Linked DNA regions of Homo sapiens. The protein of the gene in region 1 interacts with the protein of each later gene in a pairwise test. Each region holds a gene or a part of one and is shown in the gene's direction. Other genes may lie near its edges.

Region 1 (3,500 bases):
CCACCCAGGCAGGGACCCCATCTGGTTCTGTTCACTGTTGAGTCCTCCACAAAACACATAGCAGGTGCTCAGTCAGGTTGTTTGTTTGGGTGATTAGGCTACCTCTGGCCTTGCGACATGTGCAACCTGGTTTTGAAAAAGACTGAGCATGTGGCTTTCTATTTCTATGGAAAATTGTGTGAAAAGGCTTATAGCATGTGGAATTGAGGCTGGACTTGCAGGTGGACTTCCTGGCAGCAAAGATGTTCTGATCCTGGAACTACATTCTTTCTTTCTGCAGTTTCTCAGATAAAGTAGCAGAGGCCCTGACTAGATATCTTAACTCTCTACCTGCTGGCAGTACTTGAAAATGCACAAAACACTTCCACGCCCATTATTCCATTTAGACCTCACATCACACAGGGAGACAGCTAGTCTTGTACCTGTTGAACAGATGAGGGAAAATGAGGCCCAGGAAGATGAAAGGATGGCAGTAGGCAGTGGCTGGACTGGAACCCAGATTCTGTGGTTGCGAGCTCAGCCTTCCTCCCATCCTCAACCCATTGCTGGACTTCATTTAGCCACAGGGGTCTGGCATGAGACAGGTCAGTTTCCCATGTGCTTACAGGCCAGTAAGCTTTGACCTCAAGTGTGCACTGTGAGCTGTGTGCTGCTGTAGCCACTTTGCTGCTGTGACTTCCTCTATCCTCCACTGCTGTCCAGGTGGGTGTTATATCCCCAGTCCACAGGTGAGGACACTGACATGCCCAGGGTCACACAGCTTGAGACAAGAGCTCACTGTCTCCCCTGTCTCCACAGTCTTGTCCTGCTCAGAGATTTCTGGCCTTAGCTTCTCCATCCTCCACCTCCTCCCCCACTTCCGCCCTTTCTTGGCTCAGAGAGCAGACATCTGCCCTCAGCTAGCACAGTCCCTGGCTCCCCATAAGGCTTTCTCCAAGTTTCTGCTCACCCACATCCTCCCTCCACAGCCCCCCACCACACACACACAGACTCAGGTGTGCCCTAAGCATGTTGGCAGCAGTACTTTTGGCAACACTTTGAAAGCAGCCCTCCTTGGGGCTGGAGATCGTTGGGGATAGTCTCCCTCCTGAACAGAGCTATTGAGGGTGAGCATCTCTGCACCCTCGGCCCTGGCACCAGGCCTGGCTCTGAGCACATAGATCCTGAAGATGTGTTTGTTGAATGAATGAATGATGTCTCCCCTGAGCCTGAGGTTTGGTTCAAACACCAGACCCAGGCTTGTTTCCTGGCCCTGCTCAGTTGCCTCTGGAAGTCCTTTCTGGTGTGAGAATGTGTCCATTGTCCTTCTCCATTCCATGGACCACAGTGGCATCACAGCTGGCATCTGGAGGAAGGGCCAACACTGCAAGGTGATGGGAAGACCAAGGGGACTTCGTGTCCCCTCTATGTTCTCCTTGGAGAGGGGACTGTCCTAGATGGGTGATGGGGATTTGGGAAGGTAAAGAAAGAAGGAAGGAGGGAGGAAAGGAAGGAAAAAGGTTGAGAAGGGAGGGAGGAAGACAGGAAGGAAGGAAGGAAGGAAGGAAGAAAGAAAGAAAGAAAGAAAGAAAGAAAGAAAGAAAGAAAGAAAGAAAGAAAGAAAGAAGGAGAGGGAGGGAGGGAGGGAGGGAGGAGCAAGCATTCACCGAGCAGCTACTATGTGCCAAACCCTGTGCCAGACATGTTCACACATAACATCATACTCAACTATCCCAGAAATGCCTGTTTGGGAGATAATATTCTCCCCCTTTACAGATGAGTAAAGAGGCTTGGAGAGATTGTGTGACTTGCCTGAGTGAGGGGCAGAGCCAGATTCACACCCAGGCATTGATTTGCACATCTCTTCCCAAATCTGAGTTTCTCCCATTGGTAGCTTGAAATAGACCATTACTGGAGTATTCACACAATGGAAATCGGCAAACTATACATTGGGGCCTCCCTCACCCGAGAATTGGTTGTTACACACTTGCCAGCACATCCCTGGGTATGCCCATCCTTCCTAATCCCTCCCTGTCTCTGTGGGGCAGCCACCTGCGGTTAATGTGCTTTGGTTTCCATCTGCAATGGGCTCCTGTTGTCCACCACTTCCTAACAAAGTATCCTTGGGCAAGACACTCGCTGTCTGAGTCATAGTTTCCCTGTCTTTTAAAAATGGAGGGTGAGTGAGATACAGCAATAACACATGAGAGCTTTTGGCATGTAACTGGCCTCTCCCTTCCTCCTGATGGGGCCAGCAGGCCATGGAGACTCTGAGGAGAGTGGGGTCACTGTTTCTTCTCCCTCTGCTGGAGCTGCTTTGGGCGAGAAGTCCACGATCCAGTCACTTCCATTAATTAAGCAGCTGCCCCAGGCCTGATTCTGGACTGACAGAGACCTCTCGGGGAGTTTCAGGTTGTGGGCAATCCCACATTCATTGAGAACAATTAAAAATCACATGTAATCAAATGGCCAATACAGGGCTTGAACCAAGCTTATGTCTTTGGGGATTAAAGGGAGTGGCCCAGGAAGGCTCTGAAGGATTGAAACAATCTTGCCAGGTCAGGAGTGGTTTCCAGGCAGGAGAAACAGCACATGCAAAGGGCTGGGGAAGAGAGGGGAATGCCATCTGGGCAAGTGAGGGTTGGAGCTATGAGGCTCCTGGCCTTGCTTAAGTGCAGGTCCTGGTTGAGAAGCTGGGGAGGAGGATGGAGGAGTTGGCAGAGACCTGCCTGCTAGGAAAGCGGTCTGGATTTGAGCCCATGGGCTGAGGGGAATGGTTTAAAAGAGTGGAGTGGCATTCCCAGAGCAGGGCTCTAGGAAGATTAATTTGGCTTTTCTGGGCCACCTGAAGCTGGAAGCTCTTTTGAACCTCCACTGGGTTATAAATGGTTGCTCTGGGTTGCCCAAAGAAACGATGGACTCCAGAAAGAAATGCCATCGTTTGGAGATGGCCCACTTCTCCCAGCACATCCTGACCCAGTGAGGAGGGAAAGCCAGGCCCTTGCCCAGGCCCTACCAAGATTGCACAGCCTTGAATGAGACTGCCCCAGCCTGAGTGTGTACCTTGGGCTTGACCCAAGAGTGAAGGGAGGAGGAGCGCGGTCCTGGGGAGAAGCTTCTAGATCTCCAATGGGCATGGGCTTTGTAGTCTAACCAGCTTTCAGATTCCACCTCCACCACTTGTCCAATTTGTGGACTCAAGTAACCTCTTCATTATTTTACCCTTGGTTTCTTCAACCGCACTTGTCACTCTTCATGGTGGCCTCGTCTGGTGGGGGCTGCTGGGAAGCGTGAATGGATAATACCAGGAGGCCATATGCACAGTGGCTAGCATACAGCAGGTGTTTGAAAAGTGGTTGCTCCCTTGATGATGTTTGGCTCCCCACCATGTGGTAGGAGCACCCTCCAGGTTTGAAGGGAAAGAAGTGTTTATAACCCTTGATTCCCAGGAGGAGAGGATGCATGGCAGGTTTCCCCATGTGGATCACTGGAAGAACCTTTGGGTTTGGAATTACAGAGCA
Region 2 (3,500 bases), on another chromosome or scaffold:
AGGAGAGGGCAATGAGGCCCAGCGGGAGATAGCAGCAAGGTAAGGTGGGCGGGCCTGGGACAGCGGACCCTCGACATGCGGGGTTAGGGGCGTGGACCCCCACTCAGCTCAAATCCAAGTACAACTTTTGACTCCCACGAACTTAACTAGGAATGGCTTCTCGCTGACCGGAGGCCTTGTGAGGACACTTGGTCAATGCACACCAGCCTCCTGTTCTCACAATAACAGGCTGGAGAACAGAAAATACATTCAGAAAAGTCTAAGGGGCCGGGTGCGGGGGCGCACGCCTGGAATCCCAGCACTTTGGGAGGCCGAGGCGGGCAGATCACGAGGTCGGGAGATCGAGACCAGCCTGGTCAACACGGTGAAACCCTGTCTCTACAAAAATACAAAAATTAGCCGGGCGTGGTGGCGCACACCTGTAATCCCAGCTACTCAGGAGGCTGAGGCAGGAGAATCTCGTGAACCCAGGAGGTGGAGGTTGCAGGGAACCGAGATTGCGCCATTGCACTCCAGCCCAGGCGACACAGTGACACACCATCTCAAAAAAAATAAAGGACAGGCTGGGCGCGGTGGCTCACGCCTGTAATCCCAGCACTTTGGGAGGCCGAGGCGGGCGAATCATGAGGTCAGGAGTTTGAGACCATCCTGGCCAACGTGGTGAAACACCGTCTCTACTAAAAATACAAAAAATTAGCCGGGTGTGGTGGTGCACAACTGTAGTCCCAGCTACTTGGGAGGCTGAGGCAGGAGAATCACTTGAACCCGGGAGGCGGAGGTTGCAGTGAGCCGAGGTTGCGCTACTGCACTCCAGCCTGGGCGACAGAGCAAGACTCTGTCTCAAAAAAAAAAGGAAAAAAAATAAAAGGAGAAATCCTGTTTGCTGTTCACACAGTGGAGGTGGCCACGATGAAGGCCTGTGTCCTTGTGTTCATATTGAGGGCTGAGGAGCAGGAGCAGGAGGGTGGGTCTGTCTCCGGGGTGGCAGAGGTGGAAGGGGAGGCAGGAGAGGCCGGCACCGTTGGGGCAGCCTTTATTGAAAAAATTCACATATGAGTGGACCTGTGCAGTTGAAGCCTGCCTTGTTGAAAGGTCATCTGTGTTTCCTTAGCATTTCAGGAGGGTTGAAAATGGAGAGGGGGCACTGACCTGGTCCAGAACGACCCCCTGAGCAAGTGATGTTGATGGAGAGTGCAGTGCCCCAGGCTCAGGGATGGAAGGCCCAGAGCCCAGAGGGGCTGGGCAGGTGGGAGCCATGGCAAGGCCGGAGCAGGAGGAGTGAGGGAGGCCCTGTGGCCCAGTGTGACCAGATCCGCATTGAGGGTGGAACGCGCCGTGGATGGGCCCAGGAGCGAGGCTGGGGAGTAGCAGCTGCAGACTCCAGGCAGGAGACAGCAGCGGGCTCGGTGGGGACGGCAGAAATGAGGGGTAGAGGATGCAGGTCCTCTTTGGAGGAAGCGAGTTCCTGTGGCCAGGAGAGGAGGCAGCTTGGCAGGTGAGGGCGTGGGGGGCTGTGGTGGGGGTCCCCAGACTTCTGGCTGGAGCATCACAAGCCAGGACAGGCTCAGGAGGGACAAGTACTGGCTTGGATGTGTTGGCGGGACCTGGGGCTGAGAGGTCCGCAGAGCAGTGTGTCCCAAGTGCTCTGTGCCTCAGTTTCCATGATTGAAACAAGGTCACTCAGACACATCTGTCCTGGGGCTGTGGGAACAAACGGACCCGATGGGTTGCTGACAGCCACAGGCCACACAGCAGAGAGAAAGAAAACAGCAGCTGAGGCCGGGCGCAGTGGCTCACGCCTATCATCCCAGCACTTCGGGAGGCCGAGATGGGCAGACATCTGAGGTCAGGGGTTTGAGACCAGCCTGGCCATCGTGGCAAAACCCCGTCTCTACTAAAAATACACAAATAAGCTGGGCGCGGTGGCACGCACCTGTAATCCCAGCTACTCAGAGTCTGAGGCAGGAGGATGGCTTGAATCCGGAAGGCAGAAATTGCAGTGAGCCAAGATTGCGCCACTGCACTCCAGCCTGGGTGACAGGGCGAGACTCCGTCTCAAAAAAAAAAAAAAGGTGGGGGGATGTCGGGACGAACTGGGGGTGCTGGGATAAAGTCTGGAGTTCACCGATGAGCAGAGAGGGGCCGGGCCTTGCCAGCTGTGAGGAGAGCAAGTGGCCTGGGCTTGGGCCTGGTCCCTGGCGGGGGTGCAGGGTGAGCTGAGACATGGCAGAGAGGAGGCTGGGAGCAGGCCTTGGTGGTGGCCCCAGTGTCTGGACCGTCGCGCAGGGGTCGGCGTTTGTGCTGGGGAGGAGGCCAGGGGTTGCACGCGGCTTCTGGGCTGTTCCCCGGTCCTGGATGGGCACCCGTCCATCTCAGCGCGCTGGAGCCTGGCACACAGTAGGCACGCAGTGATTGTGCATTGAATGATCTGTGGGAATTAAACATCTGATTCTCTCATGGGGCTTGAAGGGAGAACTGAAGATCTCCAGGGTTGCACTTTTGTAGATGTGCACATTGGCTGGTCCCATGAAGTTAGTATCTAAAATACCTTTTTCTTTTTTTTGAGACGGAGTCTCGCTCTGTTGCCCAGGCTGGAGTCCAGTGGCGCGATCTCCGCTCACTGCAAGCTCCGCCTCCCAGGTTCATGCCATTCTCCTGCCTCAGCCTCCCGAGTAGCTGGGACTACAGGCACCCGCCACCACACTTGGCTAATTGTATTTTTTAGTAGAGACGGGGTTTCACCATGTTAGCCGGGCTAGTCTCAAACTCCCGACCTCAGGTGATCCGCCCACCTCGGCCTCCCAAAGTGCTGGGATTACAGGCGTGAGCCACCGCACCTGGCCTCCCCTCCTTTTTTGTTTTTTTGAGACAGAATCTTGCTCTATTGCCCAGGCTGGGGTACAGTGGCGTGATCTCCGCATGCTGCAGCCTTCAGCTCCCTGGCTCAAGCAATTCTCCTGTCTCAGCCTTCTGAGTAGCTGGGATTACAGGTGTGCGCCACCACGCCCAGCTAATTTTTGTATTTTTAGTAGAGACAGTATTTCCGTCATGTTGCCCAGGGTGATGGTGAACTCCTGAGCTCAGGTGATCCACCCACCTCGGCCTCCCAAAGTGCTGGGATTCCAGGTGTGAGCCACCGCGCCCAGCCTAACGTATCTTTATTCACTCTATCATGGAACTGTCAGCATTGTAGCGAGGTCTAGAAGTAGAACAATCTGGGTGGGTGTGGTGGCTCACGCCTGTAATCCCAGCACTTTGGGAGGCCGAGTCAGGCGGATCACGAGGTCAGGAATTTGAGACCAGCCTGGACAACATGGTGAAACCCCGTCTCTACTAAAAATACAAAAAATTAGCCTGGTGTGGCGGTGGGCACCTGTAATCCCAGCTACTTGGGAGGCTGAGGCAGGAGAATTGCTTGAACCCGGGAGGCGGAGGTTGCAGTGAGCCAAGATCACGCCACCACACTCCAACCTGGGTGACAGACTGAGACTCCGCCTCAA
Region 3 (3,390 bases), on another chromosome or scaffold:
TCAGATTATTGAAGGGACTTATGTATCATGGTAAGGAGTTTTTTTTTTTTTTCTCAAGGCAGTAGAAAGCTTAAGCAGAGGAGTGATATAATCTGATTTATATTTTTAAAAGAGTTTGCTATATGTATGTTATGCCTCATTTTTTTTTAAATTTTTTATTTTTAGATGGAGTCTTGCTCTGTTGCCCAGGCTGGACTGCAGTGGCACGATCTCAGCTCACTGCAAGCTCCACTTCCCGGGTTCATGCCATTCTCCTGCCTCAGCCTCCTGAGTAGCTGGGACTATAGGCGCCCACCACCACGCCCGGCTAAGTTTTTTCTATTTTTTAGTAGAGACGCGGTTTCACTGTGTTAGCCAGGATGGTCTCAATCTCCTGACCTCGAGATCTGCCTGTCTCGGCCTCCCAAAGTGCTGGGATTACATGTGTGAGCCACCGCGCCTGGCTGTTATACATCAGTTTTTAAAGAGAGACATTAAGAAATAAAGATGACTCTGGCTACTGTGTGGAGGGTTGGAGAGAAGCAAAAGTGGAAGCAGACTGAATAAGGAGACTATTGCTGCAATTCATATAAGAGATGATGGTGTCCTGAAAGAGTGGTGGCAGTGAAAATTGGGAGAAGAGGACAGAGTCAAGATATATTTAGGAGGCAGAAATGACAGGTCTTGATGATGTATTATAAATGGAGAATGAAGAATAGAATAGAGAAAAATGAATAATTAGCTTTGAACTTTCTGGCTTGAGAAATGGGGTAAATGGGGTGTAATTTACTGAAACTGGAAAGATTTAGAAAGGAATAGATTCGAGGAATCAAGAGTTTGATTTCAGATTTCTTCAGTTTGGGATGCCCATGAGATTTCCAACTGGGGATACCAGATAGGCAGTTATACATGAGATTGGAGCACAGAGAGATGTGGGCTTAAAATATAAGTCTGCATCTCATCAGCTTATTCATATGGTATTTATATCTATGGATATGGCTGAGATCCCAAAAGGAGAGAGTGAAGAGAAAATAGAGAAGAGAGTCTAGGGCCAAACCCAAGGAAGCTTCAACACACAGATGAGGAGACTGACAAAGGAAACTGTCAAAGAACAGTCAGAGAGAAAGGTCAGGAGAATGTTTTGATGGTGGGGGCCAGAATATGCTGTCCCAAAATAAGAAGGATTGTTGAGCTGAAGGCAAGTTAAAAGAAGCAGATACAGGCTGGGTGCAGTGGGCTCATGCCTGTAATCTTAGCATTTTGGGAGGCTAAAGTGGACAGATTGCCTGAGCTCAGGAGTTCGAGACCAGCCTGGGCAACATGATGGAACACCATCTCTACTAAAATACAAAAAAAAAAAAAAAAAAAAAAATTAGCCAGGCATGGTGGCATGTGCCTGTAGTCCCAGCTACTCAGGAGGCTGAGGCACGAGAATTACTTGGACCTAGGAGGCAGAGACTGCAGTGAGCTGATATCTCGCCACTGCACTCCAGCTTGGGCAACAGAGCAAGGCTCTATCTCAAATTTAAAAAATAATAATCATGATAATAATAAAAGAAGCAGATATAGGAGAGGTCTTCTGCCCTCCCTGTATTTGCCTAAAAAACCATAAATTTACAAAGACAAAAGTTATCCTACTTCCACCTCCCTCCTCTGCCTCCCACCACCAGGGAGAACAAAGGTTAACCACTGAAGATAACTTTGGACTCTTATTGGCCTGGAAATGGTACTGCTTTACAAATTAGCCTTTATCTGCCATTCATTTGCCTTCCCCCAAGTAGCTACCCATTAGAGACTCAAAGTCCTTAAAGGTCTTTTCCTTTGTCTTACACTTCTTTAAAAATTTATTGTTCTTTGTTGAAGATGCTATATAAGCTGGAATTCTAAGCCACCTTTTTGAGAACTGCTCATTCTCTGGGTGTCTGTCATGTATATATGAAATGTACATGTTAATAAACTTCTGTTTCCTTTTTTTTCTTGTTAATCTGCCTTTTGTAACAGGGGTCCAGTCCATCTAAGAACTTATTGGGGTTATTCTACATGACAAAGAACTCATGAGAATAAGTGTTTCAAGAAGGGGATGACAAATGCTGCTGAGAGGTTTGATAAGATGAGGACTAAAATGTGACCATTGATTGTGGAAGTAATATAATGAACTTGACATGAGTTATGTTAGAAAATTACTGCTCAGGGACACCAAATTAGAGGAGACTGAGAAGTAATAGGAAATTGAAATAGCAGTTGTACCCAACCCTAAACTGTAATTGAACATAAACAGTTTATTTGATGGAGCTTTTCACGTGTCAACCAAAGGAGCAGTGTTAGATACATAAACATTGCTATGATGTCAGAGTTCCAATGTCATGGCCACTGGGATCACTTTGCCCAGACAGACCATTACCCTTCCTCTCCAGCTCTGACTTCTACTCTTCTAGAAGTCACTGGTATACTTTATGGTGTGTCTTCCAATCAGACTCTTGGGAATGTCTTTTATTGAAAACTCCTGTGGATGCATAATCATTTTCCCAAGACTCAGGGCAGATTTCACCTCCTCTGGAACCCCATTAACTTTCTCAAGTATAATTAACAATTTCTTCTTCTGGAGTCCCACAATACTTTACATATACTTTAGTTATTGCATGTATTAAGTTGGTTTCTAGTTGCTTGAGTGTATGTCCAACTAGACTGTGAGCACACTGAGGGAAGGAATTTGGCTTGGAAAGTAAAATTGGCTCCCAGTGTTTTATCTAAACAAATAGGCTCAATTTACAACAGGATTCCATCCTCTTACGCTGTGTATTCCCATCTCTTCCATGCTGCATCCCACCACCCTTCAATGTTATTACAATAAAATTAAGATCAAATAATTTATTCAGCTAATTTTTCTTGTTTTGGACAAAATAGACATCCTAATACATTTATAGCCAAAGTTTAATCTAGACACTAAAAGGAGCATATTTTGCCTTTAGGCTCTGTATTTCCCATCCCGTTCCCAGTCAAGATAATCACAACTGTATTCTTTAGGAAATTCTTCACAAAGAACCAAACATATGTTACTATGAAACTAGATTCTTGGTATCCTGGTGAAAAAACCTGCCCTCTTGCTTGTCTGTAAATACTGGCCTTGGCTGGGTGTGGTAGCTCATGTCTATGATTCCAACACTTTGGGAGGCCAAGGTGGGAGGATCTCTTGAGCTTCAGTGTTTGAGACCAGCCTGGGCAACATAGTGAGATCCCATTTCTATAAAATTTTTTTTAAAAAGCTAGCCTGGCATGGGAGCTTGTGCCTGTAGTTCCAGCTACTTGGGAGGCTAAGATGGGAGGATTGATTGAGCACAGGAGGTCGAGGCTGCAGTGACTGCATTTCAGCCTGGGTGACAGAGGGAAATCCTGTCTCAAAAAAATTAAACA
Region 4 (3,500 bases), on another chromosome or scaffold:
GCAGCTTTAGTTATTTTCTGACCTTTGGTTTATGGATGGTCACACTGATGCCACAATCTCTTCCCATGCAGAAAATGGAAACCAAGACGGAGTCCAGTGGAATAGAGACGGAACCCACCGTGCACCACCTGCCGCTTAGCACTGAGAAGGTGGTGCAGGAGACCGTGTTGGTGGAGGAGCGGCGTGTGGTGCACGCGAGTGGGGATGCTTCTTACTCGGCGGGAGACAGCGGGGATGCTGCAGCACAGCCCGCATTCACAGGCATTAAAGGGAAAGAGGGCTCTGCCTTGACGGAGGGGGCTAAAGAGGAAGGAGGGGAGGAGGTCGCTAAAGCTGTCCTGGAACAGGAAGAGACAGCCGCTGCTTCCCGTGAGCGACAAGAGGAGCAGAGTGCAGCCATCCACATTTCAGAAACTTTGGAACAAAAACCTCATTTTGAGGTAACTAGTAGTAAATGTTACTTTTATCACTAAAATAAAACTGATATAGGATGCCTGGAAATTTAGATCAGCATAAAGGTGGAGCTAAGTTTAATTTTCTGCCTCTCCCATGTATAGTGTATTTCTCCTCTCATTTCCTTCTTTCATACCTAGTAGGAGTCTCCACACTGATTTCCAGCTTTGGTGTCACATGCAAACATATCTCTTAATTATTAATAATATGGCACCAGGAAATGGTTTCTACTCTCACTGAAATTATTATAATTGGCAGTAAAATTGGGAAATGCAAAGTTGGCCAAGATATTAGAAAATGTGATACATTTATTTCTTATCAGTGCACTTTTCCAGAAGCACCAAAACCATGTTTACCCGGGTCCTAAATGCCAGAACTTTATTCTTTATCCTCTTTTATTGAGATTCCTGAAGTATTTGGGGAGTTAATGTCTCATTATTAGTTTCTTCTTTCTAAGAAGTTATTAAATAGAAAACTTTTTTTTATTGCCTTCAAAATGTTTTGCTTTACTTGGAGCATTTCATATAAAAGTGCTATGAGAGTCCAGGAGACTGACATGTGCATGTTGTATGCCTCATTCCCCAGCTTACTCTCTACATAAACATTTATAGCATACTAACCTGTGCTTATAACCACCAAGAGAGGAAAAGGAAGAAAACAATGTGTTCATGCAAACTATAACAGCCACTCTGCTTACTCCCCTTTGGCACAGTCCTCAACGGTGAAGACGGAAACCATCAGTTTTGGCAGTGTTTCACCGGGAGGAGTAAAGCTAGAAATTTCCACGAAGGAAGTGCCAGTAGTTCACACCGAAACCAAAACCATCACATATGAATCATCACAGGTGAGATATTCTGTGAAGACCAGAGCCCTGGCTGCTTATTTCACCCCTCTATGGCCTAGTGTGTTTACATAGAACTGCACGATATTTAATTCATGAGACTTAGAGGATCCAGCAGCCAGACCATTTCTATTAAAAGTGATGCAATAATGGTCATTTTATTAGTGATCAGGGAGCAGCAGATGACTTAACCAAGTCTTTATGTGTCTTGAAGTGTAGAAAAAGGCTCAGAAACCTGTTTCCCTAGCCACAGAGAAAGAAAAATATTCACTCACCCATCCACCACTCACATTTCTGAAACCTTAGTTTTTTTAATGACAGTTACCTGTGGTTGCACTTAGTACTTATTCTTGGGAGCAGCGCTCAGACTCTGAAGAGCATAATGATTGCATAATAGGAGATAGTGAAATTGTCGTAATGCCTTAAATAACGTAGCCAACTTCTGAAGAGCAGATGTGAGCACCTGGATGAGGGGTCTATGCCTCTGCTGCTTTAGGTCGATCCAGGCACAGATCTGGAGCCAGGCGTGCTGATGAGTGCACAGACGATCACATCTGAAACCACCAGTACCACCACCACTACGCACATCACCAAAGTAAGTGGAGTGAGAACCGAGAAGAGGATTCCTTGAGAGCGAGCTGGAGGAAGGTGCTTGTTCAGAACTCCTCACAGGTTGGGCTGCACAAGCACAAGGTGGCTTGAAGCTCAGGACGCCGGGATAGCTGCAAGGGGAGCTTTTACAGCCCCTAGATTTACGATGCACTTGTCCTCACGTGCGAGTTCCCCTTTAGGAATATACATTCTGATATCCTAAGCTTAATGCTTACTCCAGTGCTTGGCATGTGGTAGTGTTCCAGAAACATGGGCCATCCAGACCCAAGGGCCTCCATTCCGTCCTCACCTCTGGAATTAAAAATGTGAAATAAGTGCCATAGAACTCTAATTTCAATTCTCGAAGAGTGAATGATGTCAGCATCTTCGGCCATTTCCCCCTACTGAACCATGATGGTTTCTCCCAGTGAGTAAATTCATAAAGCTTCTCTACGTGTCTTGCAGACTGTGAAAGGGGGCATTTCAGAGACAAGAATTGAGAAGCGAATAGTCATCACGGGGGATGCAGACATTGACCATGACCAGGTAGTGTGTGTGAGACGGTAAATACCCTGGCAGAGAAACAAAGAAAAACCTGTTGGTCCTACAGTTTCAATGCTATTCCTCTAGTCCAGCATGTATTCCGAAGAAAATTCCGAATTAACTTTCCAATATATGATTTATGATTCCTTTTGTAATCATTGTACCTCATTTGTAAATTGTGGATATAGATCTAGCTCATAAGTCTCCACCTCACCACTGATCATGCATGTTCCACCTCCTTTTTGTTTCTGCCCTTCTGTGATTTCCCGGGGATAGGCGCTGGCTCAGGCAATTAAAGAGGCCAAAGAGCAGCACCCTGACATGTCAGTGACCAAAGTAGTGGTCCATAAAGAGACAGAGATCACACCAGAAGATGGAGAGGATTGACCAGAGGTAAGAGGTGATGCCGATTCTCTAGGCTTGCCTAGGCTGGCATGAGGCATGGGGCACTTCCCTCTCATCCTTCACCTGATCCCTCCTTTCCTCTGTTCTCTCACTGGCATTTGTTGGGCTGGTTACCAAGAGGATGGAGAATTGGTTTATGGGTTTGTCTCACATTTGGAGCTTCCATTCTTGTGGAGTTTTTGCATGCACTGCCAGTTAGAGGATAAAGGAAGAGCAGAGTCTATGCTTCTATGCTTGTGTGGTCTTCCTGGTGTTCCCTTTTATTCCATGGCCTGCACTCTTTGATTATCCAAATTTGTAATGGCAAATTTGATTTTACTTGCCATGTGGCCTAATTGGAACAAAGGCAGTTTTGCTCTGAGAGGCTCAATTTGTGTGTTCCAAATACTAGGGAAATAATATATACCCCTTTCTCCTTCTGATGGCAACATTATCCCGTCGTAAGCTTTCTCTTCAACTGTGTTTGATTGTAACCTGTTTATGCTTTTGTCTTTAGTTTTGTTTTTTTAATTTGAAAGCTGAGCACTCACTTTCTTTTTGGATGTCTTATATTTCCTGTATTCTTTGGGATGATTTTTCTCCCTAGCGTAGCACTGTCTCAGAAGGAGGCAAAAAAAATGCAGTCTTGTGGTCCTGTAGAAAGCACATACCTTTCCAGTGACTGTTT

Evidence for each region. The genes of interacting proteins can lie anywhere in the genome.
Region 2: the proteins of IGSF21 (region 1) and BTBD2 interact in a two-hybrid assay, tested with the Homo sapiens proteins (one large-scale study listed by BioGRID and IntAct).
Region 3: the proteins of IGSF21 (region 1) and PCDHA4 interact in a two-hybrid assay, tested with the Homo sapiens proteins (one large-scale study listed by BioGRID and IntAct).
Region 4: the proteins of IGSF21 (region 1) and EPB41L3 interact in a two-hybrid assay, tested with the Homo sapiens proteins (one large-scale study listed by IntAct).

What each region holds. Positions count from the first base shown.
Region 1 is NC_000001.11:18,114,298-18,117,797, forward strand, and holds part of IGSF21 (immunoglobulin superfamily member 21 precursor), read left to right. Parts: intron 1-3,500. UniProt on the Homo sapiens protein: Involved in synaptic inhibition in the brain. Selectively regulates inhibitory presynaptic differentiation through interacting with presynaptic NRXN2.
Region 2 is NC_000019.10:2,009,215-2,012,714, reverse strand, and holds part of BTBD2 (BTB/POZ domain-containing protein 2), read left to right. Parts: intron 1-3,500.
Region 3 is NC_000005.10:141,006,068-141,009,457, forward strand, and holds part of PCDHA4 (protocadherin alpha-4 isoform 1 precursor), read left to right. Parts: intron 1-3,390. UniProt on the Homo sapiens protein: Calcium-dependent cell-adhesion protein involved in cells self-recognition and non-self discrimination. Thereby, it is involved in the establishment and maintenance of specific neuronal connections in the brain.
Region 4 is NC_000018.10:5,393,998-5,397,497, reverse strand, and holds part of EPB41L3 (band 4.1-like protein 3), read left to right. Parts: intron 1-71; coding exon 72-440; intron 441-1,165; coding exon 1,166-1,297; intron 1,298-1,790; coding exon 1,791-1,889; intron 1,890-2,350; coding exon 2,351-2,431; intron 2,432-2,704; coding exon 2,705-2,815; 3' UTR 2,816-2,821; intron 2,822-3,500. UniProt on the Homo sapiens protein: Tumor suppressor that inhibits cell proliferation and promotes apoptosis. Modulates the activity of protein arginine N-methyltransferases, including PRMT3 and PRMT5.